Homo sapiens: one gene and its partners. The protein of the gene in region 3 interacts with the protein of the main gene of each other region in a biochemical or structural test. Each region holds a gene or a part of one and is shown on either strand. Other genes may lie near its edges.

Region 1 (7,022 bases), about 46 Mb from region 3:
CTGGAATGAAAGTTTTACTTTAGAAAAAATTAACATTAAAAATGATCAGATACACAGTTCTTTTATAGTGGTATTTTACTCAGTCTTCTAAGTTATGAAATATACAAATAATGATACAATGCAAAAAATAGTTTTCAACATTTGATGAAGCCTTGATATTGACATCAACAAATTTCTAATACAGCCTAACAGCAGTATGCAAAAGCTGTATCACCATATTAAGGATCAACAAACCTTTTCTCTAGGGTGCGGAGCCACAGGGGGGTTGGCGAGTGGAAAGGCAATACTGGGGGCTTGAGGCGTAGGGATCAGGTGGCTGTCTTTTATGGGAGTTTCCAGTTCTTCAGAGATTGGGTGTTTGGGAGCTTCAGTCACACGTATGTTTCCAGGATCACAGACAGCTGAGGACAATAAAATGCTGCAGTGTGACAGGATCCAAATAAGACTAAAAACAAATTCTAGGAAATATTCTCATCTGTCTTAGTCAAGATGAAGTCAAGCACAAACTCTGGAATGTAAAAAGTACAGGCAAAAAAGTATCCTATCCCCAGAACTTATAAATAAATGCATCCCATCTGCATGTGACAATAATAACAATAAAGAAAAAATGCAATTTATTAGCATTAAACAGAGCAAGTGTGTTATCTGTGGGCTTCTCCCAACATTTTCCTTAAATACCAAGTTTTCATTGTTAAGTGTAACCCAAATTTGTAACATGAGAGCAATTCTACACTTGGAGAAAAGCAGAAGCAGAGATAAATCTATATATCTAATGGGAGGTCATCATGCAATGTGAAAAAGAAGAAAAGGAAGAAAAAAGATGAGAGATAGGAAAATTTTGTTTTTAAGGTAAAGCTCAAGGAAGAAAAAAAATAGGAGAATTCAGAAAGAAACTCATACAATCCAAAGAACAAATGTAGGTATGTGCTAGGCAGAATTCAAAAGACTTAAATGAAAATAAGATGATAGGAAGAAAAACCAAGCATTAACTCCACAAACACAAAAAGGGTTAGCTAGAATAAAAGAACAATGGTAGACACCATGTCTAGAAAAAAACGCCCAATTCTAAATTTCCAAATTTATGAAAATGTTTTTCAATTTACTGATGAAGTACCTCAATTTACAAATTATTTTTCTGGCTCAAGTTTAAACCAAAACCAGAAATATCTACGAAGTTTTTTTTGTTTGCACATTCAGATCAGAGAACTACAACATGCTCATCTGTTTATTTTTAAGAGGTCAACATGTACTTAATACAAACAAATGCAAAGATTTCTTTCTTGTTACCCTGTTTAGCAATTTCTGAATCATGTAAAGGCTTTTGAAAAGGAGAATCCTCCAAGTTTTGAATGTCAACCTGAAGCTCAGAGTATTGTGTGGGACAACTAGGCCACTGCAAATTGCTGGCAAGCCTTGCTCTCTCCTCCCTTGCTGTAGGGTCATCCCAAATGATCTGTTCATTTTGGGAAGGCTCTGTGTTGACATCAGGTACTGTCTGACGAGACTGCCTAAGGAATAGAAGTGACAGTTTAAATAAACAGCAATAACAAATCCAAACTCATTAAATCCATAAGTTAGACCATAAAAGTTGTGGCTCACCTTTATATGCCCACCATCTAGCACACAGTATGCATTAAAAATATTAAATAAATGAACCTAGGGACATTTTTTTTTTTTAAAAAGGTTTAAGGTTTCTTCCAGAAAAGTTATCTGTTTTAGCTAGGAACACATATTTTGACTACATGTCTACAGAACTAAAACTTCAAAGGAGAAATTCAACAGTGTCAAGAAATTTTTTAAAAATACTAAAGTAATTGGTACATTTAAAAATGTGATTTTCCTTAATTATACAGGTTAGGGAAACAGGGTAATGTTTCAAACACTATGGTTACTTTACTTAACAGTAGTTATATTTTTTAATTACTTGAAATTATAAGCACTATGATTACATGGGAGGCTTGCTGTAAAGGCTGCCTTATCAGAAGGGCCTTTTGGCTATTGGTAACCACTTTCCAGAGTCTACGGTGGAACAGCAATATGCTGAATTACAGGGAAGTGCATTTTATGGTGCGATTGTAATGATTCCACGTGACAGTAAATAGAAGTCCTATAATTTTCTTTATATTCACTCATTCATTCATTCTTAGTAAAAATAATTTACCATAAAACTTACACTGTGGAGAAGCAAAAAAAAAAAAAACAAAAAACAAAAAACAAAACAAAACACCAAAACCCATAAAACAATTTACCAAAGGAACCCCCAAATAGTTCCTTTGCTTCAAAAATAAAGAATATAGCCTTTTATTCTCACACTATATTTATTTACTCTGATTTGGTACAGGATTTAGGTTCTCTATAATGATAAAACATGATCTGAAGCATATTAAAAAGCTACTTTACTCAGTACTGAGATAATGAACTGCCTCATGTAATACAGTTAGCGTAAGATAAATGCTAGTTTATCTTATACTTAATTCAATTAGTCAACTGAAAATACAAGTCCCATAATTCTTATCACACAATTATAGATTTTTTTCTTCTATCACGAAAAAGATGAAGTTATGCAACTGAGCTTAAGTCACATCACACTAGAAACTGTAATCACCTTTTCTAGAAGATAAATTTTACAAGGAGAATACAAAATGCATGCAAAATCCCAACAAAAATAACTTTAAGATTTTACATATTGCATTAGAAAAAGACTCTGAAAAAATATATATGTACTTATTGTTTAATACAAATACTATTGAATACTAATACTAAAGAGCAGAGAGAACTGCCTACTGAATCCATTTCAAATGAGGCAAATTAGATCTTAAAATCATTTCTTTCTCAACGGAGGTAATAAAAAGTATCAATCATGCCTCACTGTGAAGCAGGTGCTGCTGTAAGACAAATCTCCATGTCTGCTCCACCTCCGAGTAAGAAATCTAGAACTGCTGGGAGCAAGAAATGGAAGGACAAGCTAGAACGAAAAATCTAGTCAGCAGAGAGCCAAAAGCAATAGATAATACTGGAATATAATATTTACTGTTTGGGCTAAATAAGGCCTAGGCATATAACCCCTTCACTAGTCTTGATATTTAAATTTCAGCTTTTACTGCATATTGGGGAAAAAAAGAAAAAAAAGCTAAATTAGGCCAAGCTCATGGAATTGAGTCAGCAGCAGGTACGTAAATCCTTTCTCTCAAGTCATCTAGTCTTTCTGCCATCAGTGACAGGTACACACCTCAGTGCCTCTAGGACTCTACTTCGTCCACTGCGAGCAGAGCGAGTGCTGTCAGGGGTTGAAGATGCGCTGTTACAACCACTTCTTGAAAGGGAAGTCCTCTGCCCTTGGGGTTTCACTATTGATGTTGCAGACATTATCTCCTGTAACTGCTTCTGAAAGTTCTCTCTCATCTCTAAGGTCTGTGTCAGAACTTGAAACAAACACAAATACACCATTCAAGGTAAGTTCCTCTTTTTTACCATATCTTACATTAACTATTTTGTTTAGACCTGGTTGAACACAAACTTATTGACTTGACATTTACTGAATATTAACTACAGGCTATAGTAATGTACTAAAACTATGAATACTGCAGAACATAAAAAGCAGCCCTTACCACAAGCACTGTATATGAAATAACTAGGAAGCCCTTCAAATACTTTTTTTTTTTTTTTTTTGGTGATAGTCTAGCACTGTCGCCCAGGCTGGACAGTGGTGCGACCTCGGCTCACTGCAACCTCCACCTCCCAGGTTCAAGCAATTCTCCCTGCCTCAGCCTCTCAAGTAGCTGGGATTACAGGTGCCCATCACCATGCCGGGCTAATTTTTGTATTTTTTAGTAGAGACGCGGTTTCGCCACGTTGGCTAGGCTGGTCTTGAACTCCTGACCTCAGGTGATCTGCCCACCTCAGCCTCCCAAAGTGCTAGGATTACAGGCATGAGCCACCGTGCCTGGCCCCCTTCAAAGACATTTCATCAAGACCTGTAGTGATTATCCCTCTGTAAAGCTCCCTGCCTGCTTCTGACTCTCATGGTATGTACTACACTCTGAGATGTCTTATAGTCATTTGTGTATGTGTCTGATTTTTCCCAAAGATTCTTTTAATTTTTTAGAGACAGAGTCTTGCTCTGTGGCCCAGGCTGGACTGCAGTGGTATGGTCATAGCTCATTATAACCTCTAACTCCTGGGCTCAAGTGATCCTCCAGCCTCAGCAACCTGAGTAGCTGGCACTACAGGTGTACATTACCACGCCCAGCTAATTTTTTAAATTTTTTGTAGAGACAAGGTCTCACTATGTTGCCCAGGCTGATCTGGAACCCCTAGCATCAAGCAATCCTCTTGCCTTTGCCTCCCAAAGCTCTGAGATTACAGGTGTGAGCCACCGTGCCCAGACTCCCCAAAGGCTCTTGAAAACACAGACCACAACATACATCCAGCCCTCCACATCCACCGGTTCTGCATGCATGGATTCAACCAAGTATGGATCAGAAATATTTTAAAGACATAAAAATGAAAAATATCACAATTAAAAGTACCAGTAAAAAAAATAAAATATAACTATTTACAAAACATTTACAGTGCATTAGGTATTATAAGTAATCCAGAGATGATTTAAAGTATACAGGAGGATGTGCATTGGTTAAATTCAAATCCTATGTCATTTTATACATAAGGAACTTAAGCATCTGTGGATTTTGGTACCTGAGGTAAGTCCTCGGAACCACTGCCACATGGATACCAAGGGACAAGACAACTGTATTTACCTTTGGTTTTCTTTAAAGCCTAAACTCTGGAGTAAGTATTAAATAAATGCATTTGGAATGAACAGAGTGAGACTAACCAAATAGGTAAGTCATAGGGAAAGCTTTGGTAGGTTAGAATGAGTAAGGAAAACAGAACATATTAAATCTATTAAAAGACATCCATGTATAAGGTTATTCACTGCAGTACTATTTATAAAAGCAAGAAAGTAGAAATAACCTAAATGCCTATTAAGAATGGATGCCTAAACAAAGTGGGACCATTCATAATGAATACAATACAGTTGCCCAAAAAGAAAGAAAAGGGAAGAAAGAAGGAAAGGGAAAGGAAGGGAAGAGGGAAAGGAGAGGAAGGGGGACAGGAAGGAAAGGGAGGGAAGGAAGGAAGAAAAGCAAGAAAGAAAAAGACTAAAGAAGCTCCTAGTTATCTACTGATATAAAACACTACCCAAGGTAACAAAAAGATCAGCGTATGAAATAGCATGTATAGTAGTCCACCATTTATGTTTTTTTTTTTTTTTTTTTTTGAGACAAGAGTTTTGCTCTTCTTGCCCAGGCTGGAGTGCAATGGCATGATCTCGGCTCACCGCAACCTCCGCCTCCCGAGTTCAAGCGATTCTCCTGCCTCAGCCTCCCGAGTAGCTGGAATTACAGGCATGCAACCACCATGCCCGGCTAATTTTTTGTATTTTTAGTAGAGACGGAGTTTCTCTATGTTGGCCAGGCTGATCTCAAACTCCTGACCTTGGGTGATCTGCCTGCCTCAGCCTCCCAAAGTGCTGGGATTACAGACACGAGCCACCATGCCCAGCCTATGTGTTTGTTTGTTTTTTTTTAATGGGGGAAAAACATATTTACGGCTATATATGCATAAAGCAGCTCTAGAAGGATACATAAGGAACTAATAACACTGGGGGGCTGGAGAATAAGGGTGGAAGAAACTCTTCATATGTCTTTTTGTATCTTTAAAACCATGTGGATATGTTAAAATATATTGTACATATAAGAAAACTTTTTGAAAATCACTCAAAAGAACTGGACCAAAGACTAGATTTTTAAAAAATCACCAACTTCACCTACCTTTAATGGAATAGGGCTGTATCACACTAACTCCATAAAAACCTAGTTTCATAAATTTCATAAGCTTTACACTTAAACTACATAAAACTTTGCAAATTATCACTTAATGATCAGCATGGGACCACAAATCAATCCTCTAATATATGCTTTGCTTGTATTTAGTAATTTAAACATATTTTACAGCTGGGTGCAGTGGCTCACAAGGCAGGAGGATCCTTTCAGCCCAGGAGTTTCAGACCAGTGTGGGCAAGATGACAAGACCCCATCTCCACAAAAAATTGAGACCTTGTCTCAAAAAAAATTTTTTTAATTAAAAAATAAAATATTTTACCTCCTTTAGAGTCATTCTTTCCACTTCCATTTGATGGTGCTGACTCTTTATTATTGGTGGCCATATTGTCTACATCATTTTCTTCTAAAATCAAAGGATCTGGCTATTGAAAAAGAAAAATTATAAATTCTCAAACCAAGCCACTGTATAAGGTTTCATAGCAATATATGATTATACCTTTAGCTTAAGAGGGGGTAAATGTATCATCCATATCTCCTACCTCATCATCCTTTGTTGAAGACACAGCTGAGAGTAGTCGACTATTACAGAGCCGGCCATCTTGCACTGCGCTGATATCCAAGCTCATTTTGGGATTATAAGTATGTGGATAAAGAGATTCAGGAAGATGTTTACACTCTTGGGCACACTGCAATACAATGGTGTGCTTTAAGACAGGACTGACAAAATCTTAATGAATAGATGATGTTAAGTAGGATAAGGACAAGCAATACATTATACTGTAATATGGCAAAAAGTTCACAAAACTGGTTTGAAAAGTAGTTTACACTGAAAAATTTGCATCATACAAATGACAGATTGTCCTCATGTTTTAAATGTCATATCCACTGAAGTATAAAATCTGAAACCATTCCTGTGCTTTTGCAAAGGTATCAATTACCCTCCAGAGAATACCCAGGAAAAAAAAGAAACACAGATCTAAACTCTATTGATATGTTAAATTTTCCCCAAATAATTATAAACTTTCCATTCATATCACATTTTTAATTAGTACAAGGAAATGGAGAATTAGAAAGAGTATCCATTAAAGATTTGTTAAGTATTTAAGGACTAAAGATGTTAAGTTTTTGATGCCAAAGATCTGAAATGTGTACAGTTAACCAAGACTATTAAACTGG
Region 2 (7,932 bases), on a different chromosome or scaffold from region 3:
CAGAGATCCTGGTAACCTTCCCAAGAACCCTCAGCTTGCACAGCCATCTCCCCCTCTCTGGGGCTCGCCTGTTTCACTCGGGGAGATTGGGCTTCTAAGGAAGCTCTTCAGTCTATGGAGCTAAAACCAGCCCCTCCCTCCCTCAGATTCTCCCTGGGGGGCCACAGGGACCCTGGCCCTTCCTTCACCTCCAGCAGTGTCCCTAGCCACCCCCAGCATATGCCTCTCAGGCAACACCCTGCACCCTTCCAGGGGCACCATTCAGAGACATCTCTGTTCAACACCGCAGCCTTGCTGGGGACTCCATTTCCCTTTCTCCTCTGGGTGCCCCAGACCCCGGAAAGCCTCCCTGAGAATATGGCACCAGATGTGGACACCAGCTCTGGGCATTCTGGAGCTTCAGCCTGCTAAGGGGATCTTGCTAGCTCAGGGGACCTCCTTTCAGCTACAGAAAGCCCAGGAAGAAGGAATGGGGGAGGACAGGGCCTCACTTTCTGCTTTAGGGACCAGCCAAGTCCCAGCTTGTGCTCCCGCCTCTGCAGCACCAGGGCTTGCTCCGACAGGGCCTCCGGCACTGCCCGAAGACGGCTTGCCAGCTCGGCCCTCTGCTGCCTGCTTTCTGCCAGCTGCTCCCACAGGTCCTTCTCTGCCCGCCTCCAGTCCCGCTCGGGGGCCCTGTTGGAGCACATGCCAGGGAAAGAGGAGCCAGACTTCAGCCCAGGCCCCAGGGGGCTGCCATGCCCAACTTTCCTATGCTCACCTGCACCCTTCAGTGGGGCTTGGTGGGCAGACACGGTCCAATGCCCCGAGGAAATAGGAGTTCCAGAGACAGCGGGCAGGGCTGGGCATCAAGTCCATGGGCTCTGCCTCAGTGGGACCTGAGAACAGGACAGATCCTGGAGCTGGGGTAGTCTTGGCTTCCCAAAGCACCAGGCTCTGAGGCCTCTTCTCAGACTCAGAATTGAGGCCCTTTGGCTGAGCACGCACTAAAACCCTTCAACCCTGATCCTCTGGCCCGAAAGTCTCCTGGTGATTGGAACTTCACTAAACACCAGCCTCAACTCCACTAAACAGTTCTCAGTTCCCAGTGGTTTCCATGAGCTGTGGGTGCTGCCAGGGGTGGCCACTTGCTGAACACAAACCCCATTATCCTCACAGCAGCTGGTCTGGGGAGGCGCAGCAGGCACTCCTGAGGGGAAATTGGTGCCCAAGTCCGGCAGGGAGTCCCGTGAGGAGCTGCAATCCCCACCCAACACTGTCTGCACCAGAGCCACGTTCCCCCTTCCAGTGTGGAAGTCTGGAAATGGCAGGGGAGCATTTGGGGGCCACCACAGTTTAGCTATGATGTGGGGGTCAGAGCCCTTAAGTCAAGTCACTGCTCAGGTACCTCTCTGGCTTCCATAGCTTCAGCTGTAATATGGAGGCCCTGACGGACCTCTCACCCACCAGCTTGGTGAGGAAGGTCAGAGGGTAGACAGGGGCTATTCTGCCAGTGTTGCCATCCCTACACCCCTCACCATCACCCTCCTCACCTCTAGGGTCTGGGCCCAAGTCCACTGCCTCCCAACTCCCAACCCTGGGCACGAGGCACCCTGCCCTGGCTCTGAAAGGGCACAGGAGTTGTCTTCACCTAAGCAGTGGTTACACCTAGCACCTCTACCACCCCCACCCTGACCTCCCCACTCCTCACATTCCCAGGCCTTCTCCACTCAGGATGGCACCATCGCCCACCAGGCCTTCTCCCCACTGGACAGCTTGACTCTCCTCTCCCCTTACTCCAGGCCCAGGCTCCTGCAGCCCCCTCCAAAATTGTCTCCCCTCCAAAATGTCACTGCCACACAAGGCTTCTCTAAGACAGACCATGAGGACTGGCCGCTGCCCCCACCTCCCATACTGGGTACAGCTCCCACAATGCCACTCTACCTGGGTGCTCTGTCTTGCCAGTTAGAAGTGACAGGCTTTCCATGGCAGCCCCCTGCCCTTAGTGAGAAGCTGAGCTGTGCCCAGCTTGGTCCGGGAGGGGCTCATGGTCCACAGAATGGAGTGCACATGCAGGCCAGATTGTCCTGAGCAGGGGGGCAGGCCAGGGCAGCCCCAGGAAGGCTTTCCAGGGAGGTGACCCTGGGGCCAAGGCTCAGAGGTGAATTAACTGCCTCCAGAGAAGGCAAAGTCAGATGAGGCAGACAGAGGAGACAGTAAGGACAATAGAACAAGGAGGGCATCAGAGCAGCTGGGCCTGGCGGGCAGTGAACTGAGCCCTAAGCTTGGTGGAAGTGGAGGTGGGGGGCAAAAGGGAGACCAAAAGGGGTGAGAGGAGCTGTGGGGTTTGGGAGGATGCAGGGCAGCGGCACCTCCCCAGTGCCCTTGAGATATGCTACAGACCTCAACTCCACAGAGGCTGAGGACCCAGACAGGAGCTTGGGCCTGAGGGGCAGTGGAGGTGGAGCAAGCCTCCTCTGAGGTGGGGATGGGAGTGGAGGAGTTACCCAAACCTCACCTGGGGGCAGATCTTTCTCCAAGTTTCTGAAAGGTGTGAAAGTCACAAAAGAATGAAGCTCTAAGGGTAGAATCTCAGGCAGGATGGCCTCCAGGCTGCAAAGTGTGGAGAGGGAGACAGCTGGGAGATGGCTTCTGTTCCACCTCAGAAAAAGAGAGTTGCTTCGTGGCTGGGAGGTAGGGACTCCTGGATTCTCAGTGGTGGGCAGTTTTGTGGGAAGGTGACTAACTTACCCCATCAGAGCCTATAGCTCAGGGCAGGGCTGGGGACAGAAGCTTCTCTGAGAACATCCATCCCGGGGACAGAAGCTTCTCTGAGAACATCCATCCCTCAGGGCTAGTATCCTGGAGCCATGGAAACTCAGGCAACACTAAGTGGTGGGAGGAGGAGACACCAGAGAGGCCTCCTACTCCACCTCATCTGAGCTGATGAAACCCCGAGATGGAACCTGGCTAGTGTGGTCGAGGCCATGGGTACCAGGCAGGAATGGCATCTCAGATGGCCTGGGATTTTTCAAAATCTTCAGCTTTTGAGATAGGACCTTAGGGGGCAGGACCTCAGCAGCCAATCTGGGTCACCCACTGTACACTGAAGCGGCTCCTAACTTTCTTTTTTGAGACGGAGTTTTGCTCTCTTGCGCAGGCTGCAGTGAAGTGGCGCGATCTCGGCTCACTGCAATCTCTGCCTCCCGGGTTTAAGTGATTCTCCCACCTCAGCCTCCCGAGCATCTGGGACTACAGGCGCGTGCCACCACGTCTAGCTAATTTTTGTATTTTTAGTAGAGACGGGGTTTCGCCATGTTGGCCAGACTGGTCTCGAATTCCTGACCTCAGGTGATCATCCACCTCAGCCTCCCAAAGTACTGGGATTAGAGGGGTGAACCACCGCGCTTGGCCGATTTTTTGTTTATTTTTTGAGACAGGGTCTCCTTCTGTCGACCAGGCTGGAGTGCAGTGGTGTGATCATAGCTCACTGCAATCTCAACCTCCTGGGATCAAGCGATCCTCCTGCCTCAGTCCCCTGCAAGGAGCTGGAACTACAGGCATGCGCCACCCAGTCCGGCTAATTTTTGTAATTTTTTGGAAGGGGACCCAGTTTTGAATTAGCTTCTGTTGTTTACTTCGGATAGCCATGGTGGAGCTGGCAGAGATTTAGGGGATACTAAACACCCCTACAAATCACGCCTTGAAACCCCCCGTTTCAGGGAGAGCCGCTGGCGAAGGACTTGATGCGCAGCCGCAGCTCGGAAGCGGGGGGCTCCCCTGCGACACCTCCCCGCTTCAGGGGCGGGCCCAGACCCGCGGGGAGGGGCATGGGCGGGGCCGCGGCTGGCTGGCGGCCGCCGGGGCGGTGCTGGGGAAACCCTTGGCGCCCCCGCGGAGCGGTCCCAAGGAGGGGGCGGTGCCTGGAGGGATGGTCCGCCCCGACTGCGGGTTTCTAGCCCTCGCGTGGCGTGGGGACAATTAGGCGCCACGCCCTGTCGCTTCACTGCGCGACGCTCGCGAGGCCGGGGACGCCACTCCCAGACCGGGCGGGACGCGCACGCTCACAGTGAGGTCTCAAAAGATCCCCACCTCAGTTTTCTCATCTGGAAAGTGGGGCCTCGTAATCCTGTCCGACCCGGCGCGGGACAGTAGGTGTCAGGGATTTTGGTGACCCCACGCTCGAGGCCTCTGCAAAAGGGGGCTGTCCAGTGGCCCAGAGACGCAGCCGGCGGGGCTTTTGTCTAGCGGGGGAGTCTTAACTGAGAGGCCACGCAGGCCGGCAGGAAGCCGCTCCACAGGAGGGGGCTCAAGGAGAGGGGATCTCCTCCCTCCAGACTCCGGCCCCGCCAGAGTAGCTCTAGGGTATCTTCCCAGAAACTGCCCCGCACGCACTGGCGAGCTGGGAGCGCCACCACGGCTTTCAAAAAACCCGCACACACCAAGATAATAATGTGTCGTTCGCTCGTTTCGCGCAAGCGGAGTCGCGTCCGCCTTCCCGAGCTCCGGCACACAGACCTCAGGCCGCTCTCGCGCTCTCCGGGGCCCCGAGAACAATGCCCGTCCTCTCCGCGCGCAGGAGGGAGTTGGCGGACCACGCGGGGTCGGGGCGACGGAGCGGGCCCAGCCCCACGGCCAGGTCGGGGCCCCACCTCTCGGCTCTGAGAGCCCAGCCGGCCCGGGCCGCGCACCTGTCAGGTCGGGGGACCTACGTGCGCCGCGACACGGCGGGAGGCGGGCCGGGCCAGGCTCGTCCCCTCGGCCCTCCCGGAACTAGTCTCCTAGGCCGCGGCGCCCGCCGGAGCGGAGAGGGCTGGTGCCCCGGAGCCTTCGAGTCGGGGGCTAGAGCGGCCAGGCCTCCGAGCCGGGTCGAGCCGAGGCTGGCGACGGCTGCGTCACGCGAGGGGGCGGGGCTGCCACGGGCGGAGGTCGCAGCCGGAAGCGGAAGAGGCGCTCGGAGCGGGGAGTGGGGCCTAGCTGCAGCCGGAGCCTGGGAGACGGTAAGTGTGGGCTGGGGTCCGCGGCGGCGACAGCGGCGGCGGCGGCCGGGGGTGAGTCGGCGGGGCAGGCGCGCTGGTGCCATTCGGTCTCGGCCTACTCCCTTTCTTTCTCCTCTTCGGCCCATATCGGGCCGCGACCTCTCACCCCTGACCCGCTGCTTCTGCCCCGGAGGGCGGTCACTGCAGACCCTGACCTCGACCCCACGGTGTTGAAGGCGGAGCCTGAACGGCCTCTGGGGCCGCTCAAGGGTCCAGTTTGGGCTCTGTGCCTGCCCGCGGAATGGGGTCGGGGTCCGACGTAGAAGAGCCAGAGAAGCCCTTCAGACCCCTCCCCTACCCCTGGCTTCAGGCTTAGTCCGCAGATGACTCCTCCCTTGGCGGCCTGGAGTTTGATTCTGGCCCAGTCCGGCTTTCCCTCTGTCCCCGGGTCTCCCCTCGGCGCCACTGGTGGCGGTTACAGGGGATGGGACTCTGAGACCCCCTGGGACCTGGGGCGGCAGGAAGGGACGCGAACGAGGGCGCAGGCTCCCCTGTGTGTTTTGTTGTGGTGGTAGAGCCACTCCAGCCCGGAGGATGGGCTAGGCCAAGCTGACAGTTCAAATCCCCTGGCTGCTCCTCCGTCCCGCCCGGGAGTCTCTAGCTTTAGTTCCGGGTGTGGGTGCCCTGATGTGGAGCTGGGGTGGAAATTGCCTGAACCAGGCCCCCATCAGAGGCGGAGTTGGCGGCCTTCCAGCTTCCCTTCTTGATGCCCTTGAAAAGGAGGAGCGTTTCACCGTTGGTGGTGGAGGCTTGCGAGGTGGCAGGTTTGAGGTTGCAGTGGTAGGGCAGTCCAGCCAAAAATAACCATGGGTGCTGGGGTGGCTGGAATCCGGGAGGGCAGCCGCTGACCTGGCTGGCTGCACTTCTAGTCAGCCCAGTTCTCTGGCCAGGAACAGCAAATGAGAAGCCGACAAGGCCTGTGCTCAAAGTTGACATCCTTGGCTTGGTTTTCTTCATATCACCTTTTTCCTCATTGTGCAGAGCAGAGCTTCCCAAAGCATAATTGTGGCCTTTAGCTGCTTTTTAAACAAGCTGTTTGCTGAGGTTTTCGAGAATCAGAGATAATTGAGAAATGGGCCCTAGAGCCCTGGCTGGGAGGATGATATCTGCTATTTCCAATATTTTACTTGCCTAGAATGTGTTAAAGGAAGGATACTCTTCTCTGTTATTGCTTTGTGTGTGGTACCTTATAACTCTCATGCTTGTCATCTCTTTTGCCAGGCTGAGAGATGTTATCTCCATTTTCCAGGCATGCTAACCAAGGCCTAGAGTGACTTGTCTAAGGTCATGAGGCTGGTATGTGACAGCACTAGGATTTAGTTTAGTTTTCTGCCAGAGCTCTTGCCTCCCAGTTTCCTTGGAAGGGACTTATAAAATGTCTGTAAGGCATTTAACACAGCCCTGAAGTGTTACCTGGAACTTTCAGATGTTCATGAAAAGCTGCCACTAGTACCTCTGTGGGCACAAAGCTGTGCTAGGCATTTCACTTATAGGAGAGAGATATTTAATCCTCACAGAACCTTGTAAGAGATTACTATTCCCTTGTTGCAAGATGAAGCTGACGGTCAGAGTAGTGTAATAATTTGTTCAAAGGCACACAGCTAGAAGTGGCAAGCCATGATTCAGATTGACATCTATATGACTCTGAAATTTTGTTTTCCATTGATGTGAATATGTATGGACATAAGAATCTTCTAGGTCCCAGGAGGTAGTCTTTGGCGTGGTGTGACTGTGACTGTGTCCTCCAGCTCTGGTGTTTGTCTGCCCAGTGAGGATGGGCAGGACCATACTTGCCTTGTGGCACGACATGTGCCCTGGCCAATAGAGCATCTTCTGGGTCAATTAGTGGGGTGTGAGTTCCTGCTTTCATTCCATAGCTTGGGCACCTGACCCAGAGTAATTGCAGGAAAACAGTGAAATATTAGTCAGCTGATTACCAAAACAACAAATCTAAGCTTTTGGGGAGGTGATTTCACAAAATATTTATCTCCAAAGACTTCCCAGGTACACGGGGGAAGACAAGTTAGTGGGGAGATGGAGGGCTTTCTTAGGGACACGGAGAGGCTCCCAGGGGTTTGGTCACATAGGCCTCACTGTCCTGCTCAAGCATGGGGAGCTGTTCTATGCTGCTTTTCTCCTGACAGACCCTGCTGGTGAGATGGGGCAGCCTCAGTGGGTTTGTACAAAATGTGCTTGGCCAGGCAAGCTCAGGACTGACCATGACTGGAGGTTGGCTGTGGCCAAGTGTGAGTGTTGGGAAGAAGGCTGGCTCCATGGAGGCAGTCAGGGATTGACGTATGGGTGGAGCAGGTTGCTGGCCTCACATGGCCAGCTTTCTCCGCTGGTGGCAGATCCAGCCTGGCAATTTCATTTGGTGGATATAAGTCCTCACTGAACAGGGATAGTGAGGTGGGGCTCTTTTACCTGCCAGATGGCTAACCCTCTGGCTATCCTGGGATAGGCGGAGGGTAGGATACTAGAGCCAGAGAGCTAGAAGAAGGGACAGTAACGGTACTGTTGGATAAAGGCAAGGCACCTGGCAGGGCACTGTGGGGGTCTAAAAGGGTGCTAAATGGGCCTCTGGAAAGAAAGTTAGATGCGCTGGGTCCACGTCCCCTTGGGTTGACCCTCAGGAGGGCTATGGAATGTTTGTGAGGCCTGTGTGCCTCTTTCTCCAAGGGCTGCTCTTCTAGTCTCTTGTGGCTCCTCATGCTCACTTGTGGTCCTTACTCCCTTGAGTGGGGTCCAGTTCAGGGCCCTAGCCAGACAGCGTTCAGCTTCTCAAACTTGAGGGCTTTGAGCCCTCGCCTCCTGTGTACAGCCCTTTGCCTGGCCTTTGGCTTTACAGAGCATTCACTTCACGGGACCGCCCCCCCGGGCGGGAGGGAATAGAGTGCAGGAGGCTCCCCTTTCT
Region 3 (7,330 bases):
TTTTTCCACTCAGCTGGTTTTGGCCTTTTCCCTAAGACATCCCGTGGCACTTGTGGATTAAAGTTTCTGGCGTGTTTAGCACCAATGGATTTTGCTCTTTATGCTCCTTACAGTCATGCATGTATGAGATGGCACATAGTAGGTGCTGAAGAATCCCTTATTGGATTCATAGTATAGTGTTACATACCATAACAAAATACTGGCTGGGTGCAGTGGCTCACGCCTGTAATCCTGGCACTTTGGGAGGCCAAGGTGAGTGGATCACTTGAGGTCAGGAGTTCGAGAGCAGCCTAACCAACATGGCGAAACCCACCTCTACTAAAAATACAAAACTAGCCAGGTGTGGTGGCACACGCCTGTAATCCCAGCTACTTGGCAGGCTGAGGCAGGAGAATCACTTGAATCCAGGAGGCAGAGGTTGCAGTGAGCTGAGATTGTGCCATTGCACTCCAGCCTGGGCAACAAGAGCAAAACTCAAAAAAAAAACAAAACAAAACAAAAAAAACCTTCCCATTATCACGCACTGTGCTTTAAGATAAATATTATCAAACCTTCCCTTCCTCCCCTGAAACATAGATAATGAAATATACTGATTCATCAGCCTTGTAAATAATCCCAGTCTCCCCTAAGGAACTGCTGTGATATGATTGCAATCATCAGTCTACACTGGACGAGATGTTTCTAGAATAGTAACATTCTAGAAACACACACAGTAAGCTCCCAATAACTATTTGTGGAAATGAATTAAAACAATCAGCCTTTTTTCCCACACCTGTTATCCACTGCATTATGCAGCAAAAACTTCCAAGAGCAAAGTTTGTAAGCAGAACTTGAAGAAGAGCCCAAATCAAAACATGGGGAAAGTCATTTGACCCACTTTCCATGTTGTGCTATCCTAAAAAACTTAGGCCACTTTCTTCTTCCTGGAGGTAACAATCTGTCAATTGCTTAAGTTAGGACCATCATCCCTCTCCACCTTTAGAAGCTATTAGTGGGAACTGCCCAACACTGGCCATACAATCTGAAAATGGCATTTTCAAATAATTTATGGATAACATCCTAAAAAAGGACTGCCGATTGTCACACTCCACTCTGTGGATCTTTTCGAAAGAAAAAAAAAGTAAACAATCAAAAATTAAGTTAGGTTTCATCCCTCAAATGATATGGAGTTACCATAAATAAAAAAACTAAATGTCACAGAGAGGATACTAACTCTGATACTCCAGTGTGTGTCGAGCAAAAGTGCTTTGAAGCCAGCCAAAATCAACCCACAGATAATAAAGGAAACTTTGGAAATGTTGCCGCTCATTTGGACTTTTCTTTTCCCCTCTGACAATAGTCCACATGCTATGAATAAAATACATTAGACCATTGCGAGACCTGCCTCGGTCCATCCAATCCATGCGCCTCCCAATGCATTGAGATCTGCCGGGTGACATATGAGATCTAAAGTGGGTGGATAAAAATAACCTGGTCCTCAAAAAGACATGATAAACGCCAGACAGCTGAGTCACTTTGAAGCCCATTTTGACTTTTGAAAGGGACATTCACCCTCCTGCTGCTTCTCACACATTCACATAGAACCAGGTGAAAACCACCACCAACCGCCCCGGGTGGAAGGCGGCGATCCCTCTCAGCTTCCTCCTCATTCTCCGAGGTCACGACTCGGGATTGAACTTTTAATAATTTATACTTGCGCATGTCAGTCCAAGTGACTCATTTAGAAGGGCAAGGTGGGGAAGGCTTAAGAAAACCATCGCAATCCAGTAGATCCCCTATTTCTGCTGCCCGAGTGGAGGCACCGGAAGGTTTCGTCTGACATTTTTTTTTTTTTTTTTTTGAGACGGAGTCTCGCTCTGTCGCCCAGGCTGGAGGGCAGTGGCGCGATCTCGGCCCACTACAGCCTCCTCCTTCCCGGTTCAAGCGATTCTCAAGCCTCAGCCTCCCGAGTAGCTGGGACTACAGGCTCCCGCCACCGCGCCCGGCTAATTTTGGGGTTCTTTTTTAGTAGAGATGGGGTTTCGCCATATTAGCCAGGCTGGTCTCGAACTCCTGACCTCAAACGATCCGCCCGCCTCCGCCTCTTAAAAAGTGCTAGGATTTCAGACGTGAGCCACCGCGCCTGGCCCTGACATTCTAAAGACAAGAAAAGGAGTGGGGTGAAATGGGAACTGGTGGAAGAAAAGCTCAGAGAGCAAATCAGAATTGTCCAGAAGTGGGGATCCCTGAGCAAAGCAAGTGGTCCCAGAAAAAGAAGGGCTGTGTGTGTCCCGGGGTGTGGGGGGATCATCCCGTCCACCTACCCGCCCTGCGCTCTGCCCCGCGGAGGACGCAAACGATCTGCAACGTGCAGTTCGGAACAGGGAACTCTTGTATTTCATCTATCTTTAAACGGCGGCGGGGCTGTGTGCAAGCTGCTGGGAATCGGGCCCTTCCAGCCTGGGGAGGCTGGCGGAGCAAAACCACCAGCACGAGCCAGTCCTCGGCTGCAGCAGCCCTGGGGCGCTCACTAAGTGTCTGCCGAACTGCAGTGTTCCTGAGCCAACTCTGCCGCCCGGAGGAAGAGAAGAGGTCCCGGCCGCCACTGCGCATCTTCTCCCCCGGCTTCACGTGCCGCAGGCCGCCGGCCCCGCGACCCTCCCCCGAGGCGCCTCACTTACGGGAGAGTCGTAGGAGAAGGCGCACTCGTTCTTGTAGACCCTGTCGCCGGACCTGGGCACGCGGATCGTGGGCATGTGGGGCACTAGCAGCTCGCCGATGTCTCCTGCAGCCATCTTCCTGCCTCCGCTGCCGCCCGGCATGCCGAACAGGGCGCCCCGGCGCTGCATGGCCTCGGCGCGCACCGGAGCCGAGCGAGCCGAGCCGGAGCCGGAGCGCGGGGTCTGCCGGCGGCGGCGGCGCCAGCGAGCGGGCTGACGGGCGGGCTGCGCGGGCAACGGCAGCCGGCCGAGCCGGGGCGGGCGGGGAGAGCGGGCTGCGGGGCGGGAGCGGGCACCGCGGGCTTGGGGCGGACTGGCGACGCTATTTTTAATCCAATGGCGAGTCTCCGGCCCAGCTGCAGCGTCAGGCGGGGCTGGGGAGCGCCAGCCGCAGCGTGCCGGGGAGGGGGCGCTGGAGAGGGGCCCTGCGCGTGGGCCGGGCGCGGCGGCGGGGGGCGGAGGGCGAACCCCTGAGGCGTTGGCGCGGGAGCTCGAGCGGGCTGGCGGCCGAACGCGGCGCGGGAGGGCCCCGGGAAAACACCACGGAGGTGTTTTCTATCCCGAATTGTTGGCTTGCAGAGGGGCAACTCCGAGGAGGCCAACACAAAGAGCAGGATTGGGGGTTTTAAAAACCGCTTGCTTTTAAAACAGCCGAAGACTAGGGCGGTGACGTCCCCGGATTGGATAGGGGCGGGACTCGATGTGCAAATCTGAAATCTAACGTGAGGCTTAAATCTAAATTTGCGCCATGCACTTCAGTGCTTCCCCACTAAGCTTCGTTCCTTACTTTAACATCCAAGGCTCAAAAATAGAGCGAATAGAATAAGATCGAGTGAGGATAGAGGGTGTGTGTGTGGGGGAGGGCGGGGTGTGTGTGGGAGTGTGTGTGTAATAATAATACAGGTTTTCTTACATATTGGGGGAAGTCAGGGATGGTCAAGATTTTTTCAGGGCGTCGGAAGGCTTTCTATTTTTCTCTGCCTTTGGAGTATCTTCTATGTGATTCAAAGTTCTCATGTCGAACATTCAGTGGCCTGATTTGAGGATTTTGTAGGCAGGCATACATATTCCTGTCTTGATCATCAGTTCCTCAAAATAAATGATGAATGGGGTTGGCCTCGGGGGTTGATCATTTGCAAGCAGAGCATGTCTCCCAGCATACTCTCATTCTCTCCAAAAAACCCACAAGACGGGTTCAATGACATTGAGGTTCTCTAACTACACCCAACATATGTATTCATGACAGAGTATCCAGTGATCCCTGCCAGTTAATGAAATGCAGAAATAGCGAGAAATAGTGAACCAAAACGCTAATTTTTGTAAGCCTCTCTCAGATCAGATAGTCCTTAAGTTCTTTTTTTTTTCTTACTTTTTTTCTCTTTTAACTCTCCCTGGTTCTCCAGACCTATCTCAAGATTTCCATACCCTCAAGCAAGCCTCGAGCGCACCACACTTTCTTATAACTCAGCACTCCCAAATGCTATCTGTTGGAAAAGGAGGAGGTGGCACTGAGCAAAAAATCAGACACTACTGTCATCTTCCTCATTGGGCAGATCCTCTCAGCGAGCTTTTGCTTTGAATTTAGTCTCATCAGCTTATTACCTTTCACGTTAATGGATGATGTTTTCTCCAATTACAGAGATAAACTTGGTTTTACAAAACTTAAAATTTAATCTTAGATTAAATACAAATTAAATCAGTGAGACACTGTTTTTCATCCTTTGGGCTGGTAAAGATATATTGAGTTAGCATGGGTTTGGGAAGTAGACCCTCATTACATTGTTGGTGGGGATAAAAACGATAAACCTCTTTGGAAGGAAATGTAATAATACCAGTCATAACTTTATATGTGCATACTGTTTTCCCCAGCATTTCCTTGTCTAGACATTTATGCAACAGATAAATTAAGGCTGTGTAAAGATATTTGTTAGAGCACTGTTTCGAGTAACAAACGTCTGGGGAAAACCTAAAGATCCTTCTGTAGAAAGTGGTTAAAATACAGTACCATTGAAAAGAATGAAGTTGCTCTACGTGTGCTGATGTGGAACAATCTCCAAATTATTACTAGATGATAAAAGCAATTTAAGCAAACTAGTGTATAAAAGCAAGGAATACATGCAAGGCTGATAATATGCAGTAGGCATTTTGGCACATCCTATATACCATGGGCCTTCATTCCAGTTGGTTGTACTTGTAGTAAATATTTTTAATGTAGCCCCTTAAAATATACATATGTGTATGCATGCCCACTTGTTTGGCTTTAGGATGTCTCTAGAGCAATACACAAGAAACTAGTCAGGCTCTGTGGAGAAGAACTGAAAGCCTGAGGTTAAGGGAGAACTTACTACCTGGTATGGTAGGGCTGTGTCCCCACCCAAATCTCATCTTGAATTCCCACGTGTTGTGGGAGAGACCCAGTAGGTGGTAATTGAATCATGGGGGCAGGTCTTTCTCGTGCTGTTCTTGTGATAGTGAATAAGTCTCACAAGAGCTGATGGTTTTACAAACGTGAGTCTCCCTGCACAAGCTCTCTCCAGTTGTCTGCCTCCATCTGAGACGTGCCTTTCACCTTCCACCATGATTGTGAAGCCTCCCCAGCCACATGGAACTGTAAGTCCAATAAAACTTTCTTTTGTAAATTGCCCGGTCTCAGGTATGTCTTTGTCAGCAGCGTGAAAACAGATTACTACACTACCACTTTGTAGCTTTCTGTATGATTCCATTTGTATTATGTGCAAGTATTGCTTTTTCCCCCCCTTTCTTTTTGGAGATGGAGTCTCCCTCTGTCGCCCAGGCTGGACTGCAATGGCGCGCTCTCAGCTCACTGCAACCTCCGCCTCCTGGGTTGAAGCGATTCTCCCGCCTCAGCCTTCCAAGTAGCTGGGACCACAGATGCACGCCACCACGCCAGGCTAATTTTTTGTTGTTTTTTTTTTTTTTTTTTTGTAGAGACGGGGTTTCGTCACGTTGGCCAGTCTGGTCTCCCACCTCGGCCTCCCAAAGTGCTGGGATTACAGGCGTGAGCCACCGCGCCCGGCCTCAAGTATTGCTTTAAAAGTTAATTAAAACTCAGCCATCGCTCTCCAACACCAGCGCCGCCTGTCACTCGCCACGCTCCAGCAGAAGAACGGGTCTAAGTAAGGAGGTCACTATACCATGGCTGGTACAAAGCTGACTGCCCAAAAATCAATTGGTGGTAAAGAACCCAGGAAGCAATCCCAGCACTTTGGGAGGCCGAGGCGGGTGGATCACGAGGTCAGGAGTTCAAGACCAGCCTGGCCAAGATGGTGAAACCCTGTCCCTAGTTAAAATACAAAAAAAAAAAAAAAAAAAAAATAGCTGAGCGCGGTGGCAGGCGCCTGGAGTCCCAGCTACTCGGGAGGCCGAGGCAGGAGACTCGCTTGAACCTGGGGGGCGGAGGTTGCAGTGAGCGAAGATCGCGCCACTGCACTCCAGCCTGGGCGACAGAGTGAGACTCCGTCTCAAACAAAAAAAAAAAAAAAACAAAAAGCAAAAAAAAACAAACAAAAAAAACTCCAGGAAGCAACTAGCTACAAACGCCGCAAGAGTGCGCCCTCTACTGGACGGGTGAAGAAACCTCATCATTACAGACCTGGTACTGTGGCACTCGTGAAATTAGACGTTATCAGAAGTCCACTGAACTTCTGATTCGCAAACTTCCCTTCCAGTGTCTGGTGCGAGAAATTGCTCAGGACTTTAAAACAGATATGCACTTCCAGAGTGCAGCTGTTGGTGCTTTGCAGGAGGCAAGTGAGGCCTACCTGGTTGGTCTTTTTGAAGACACCAACCTGTGTGCTATCCATGCCGAACATGTAACAATTATGCCAAAAGACATCCAGCTAACACACCACATACCTGAAGAATGTGCTTAAGAATCCACTATGCTGGGCACGGTGGCTCACGCCTGTAATCCCAGCACTTTGGGAGGCCGAAGCGGGCGGATCACCTGAGGTCGGGAGTTCGAGACCAGCCTGACCAATATGGAGAAACCCCATCTCTACTAAAAATACAAAACCAGCCAGGTGTGGTGGCGCATGCCTGTAGTCCCAGCTACTCAGGAGGTTGAGGCAGGAGAATCGCTTGAACCTGGGAGGCAGAGGTTGCAGTGAGCCGAGATCGCGCCATTGCACTCTAGCCTGGGGCAAGAAAAGCGAAACCCTGTCTCAGAAAAAAAAAAAAAAAAAAAAAGAAGCCACTATGATGGGAAACACTTCATTCTAACACACACACACACACACACACACACACACACAATTTCTTTTACCTGTTGTTGGTAGTTCTGAACGTTATCTATTTTTTTTTTCCCATGGGGTCAAAACGTACTAAGTATATATGATTGCGAGTGGAAAAATAGGGGACAGAAATCAGGTATTGGCAGTTTTTCCATTTTCATTTGTGTGTGAATTTTTAATATAAATGTGGGGACGTAAAGCATTAATGCGAGTCAAAATGTTTCAGTGAACAAGTTTCAGCAGTTTAACTTTATAATAATTATAATAAACGTGTTAAATTTTTCTGGACAATGCCAGCATTTGGATTTTTTTAAAAACAAGTAAATTTCTTATTGACGGCAACTAAATGGTGTTTGTATCATTTTTATCATACAGTAT

Evidence for each region. Proteins that work in one complex are often made in the same cells at the same time.
Region 1: of the proteins of USP13 (region 3) and TOPBP1, one has a biochemical effect on the other in vitro, tested with the Homo sapiens proteins (one study listed by BioGRID).
Region 2: the proteins of USP13 (region 3) and CLK3 form a complex in vitro, tested with the Homo sapiens proteins (one study listed by BioGRID).

What each region holds. Positions count from the first base shown.
Region 1 is NC_000003.12:133,616,926-133,623,947, forward strand, and holds part of TOPBP1 (DNA topoisomerase 2-binding protein 1), read right to left. Parts: intron 6,533-7,022; coding exon 6,386-6,532; intron 6,269-6,385; coding exon 6,166-6,268; intron 3,423-6,165; coding exon 3,230-3,422; intron 1,509-3,229; coding exon 1,288-1,508; intron 402-1,287; coding exon 235-401; intron 1-234. UniProt on the Homo sapiens protein: Scaffold protein that acts as a key protein-protein adapter in DNA replication and DNA repair. Composed of multiple BRCT domains, which specifically recognize and bind phosphorylated proteins, bringing proteins together into functional combinations.
Region 2 is NC_000015.10:74,610,920-74,618,851, forward strand, and holds the start of CLK3 (dual specificity protein kinase CLK3), read left to right. Parts: upstream 1-4,916; 5' UTR 4,917-4,979; intron 4,980-7,932. UniProt on the Homo sapiens protein: Dual specificity kinase acting on both serine/threonine and tyrosine-containing substrates. Phosphorylates serine- and arginine-rich (SR) proteins of the spliceosomal complex.
Region 3 is NC_000003.12:179,648,724-179,656,053, reverse strand, and holds the start of USP13 (ubiquitin carboxyl-terminal hydrolase 13), read right to left. Parts: upstream 3,015-7,330; 5' UTR 2,829-3,014; coding exon 2,661-2,828; intron 2,397-2,660; exon of another isoform or gene 2,382-2,396; coding exon of another isoform or gene 2,304-2,381; intron 1-2,303. UniProt on the Homo sapiens protein: Deubiquitinase that mediates deubiquitination of target proteins such as BECN1, MITF, SKP2 and USP10 and is involved in various processes such as autophagy, endoplasmic reticulum-associated degradation (ERAD), cell cycle progression or DNA damage response.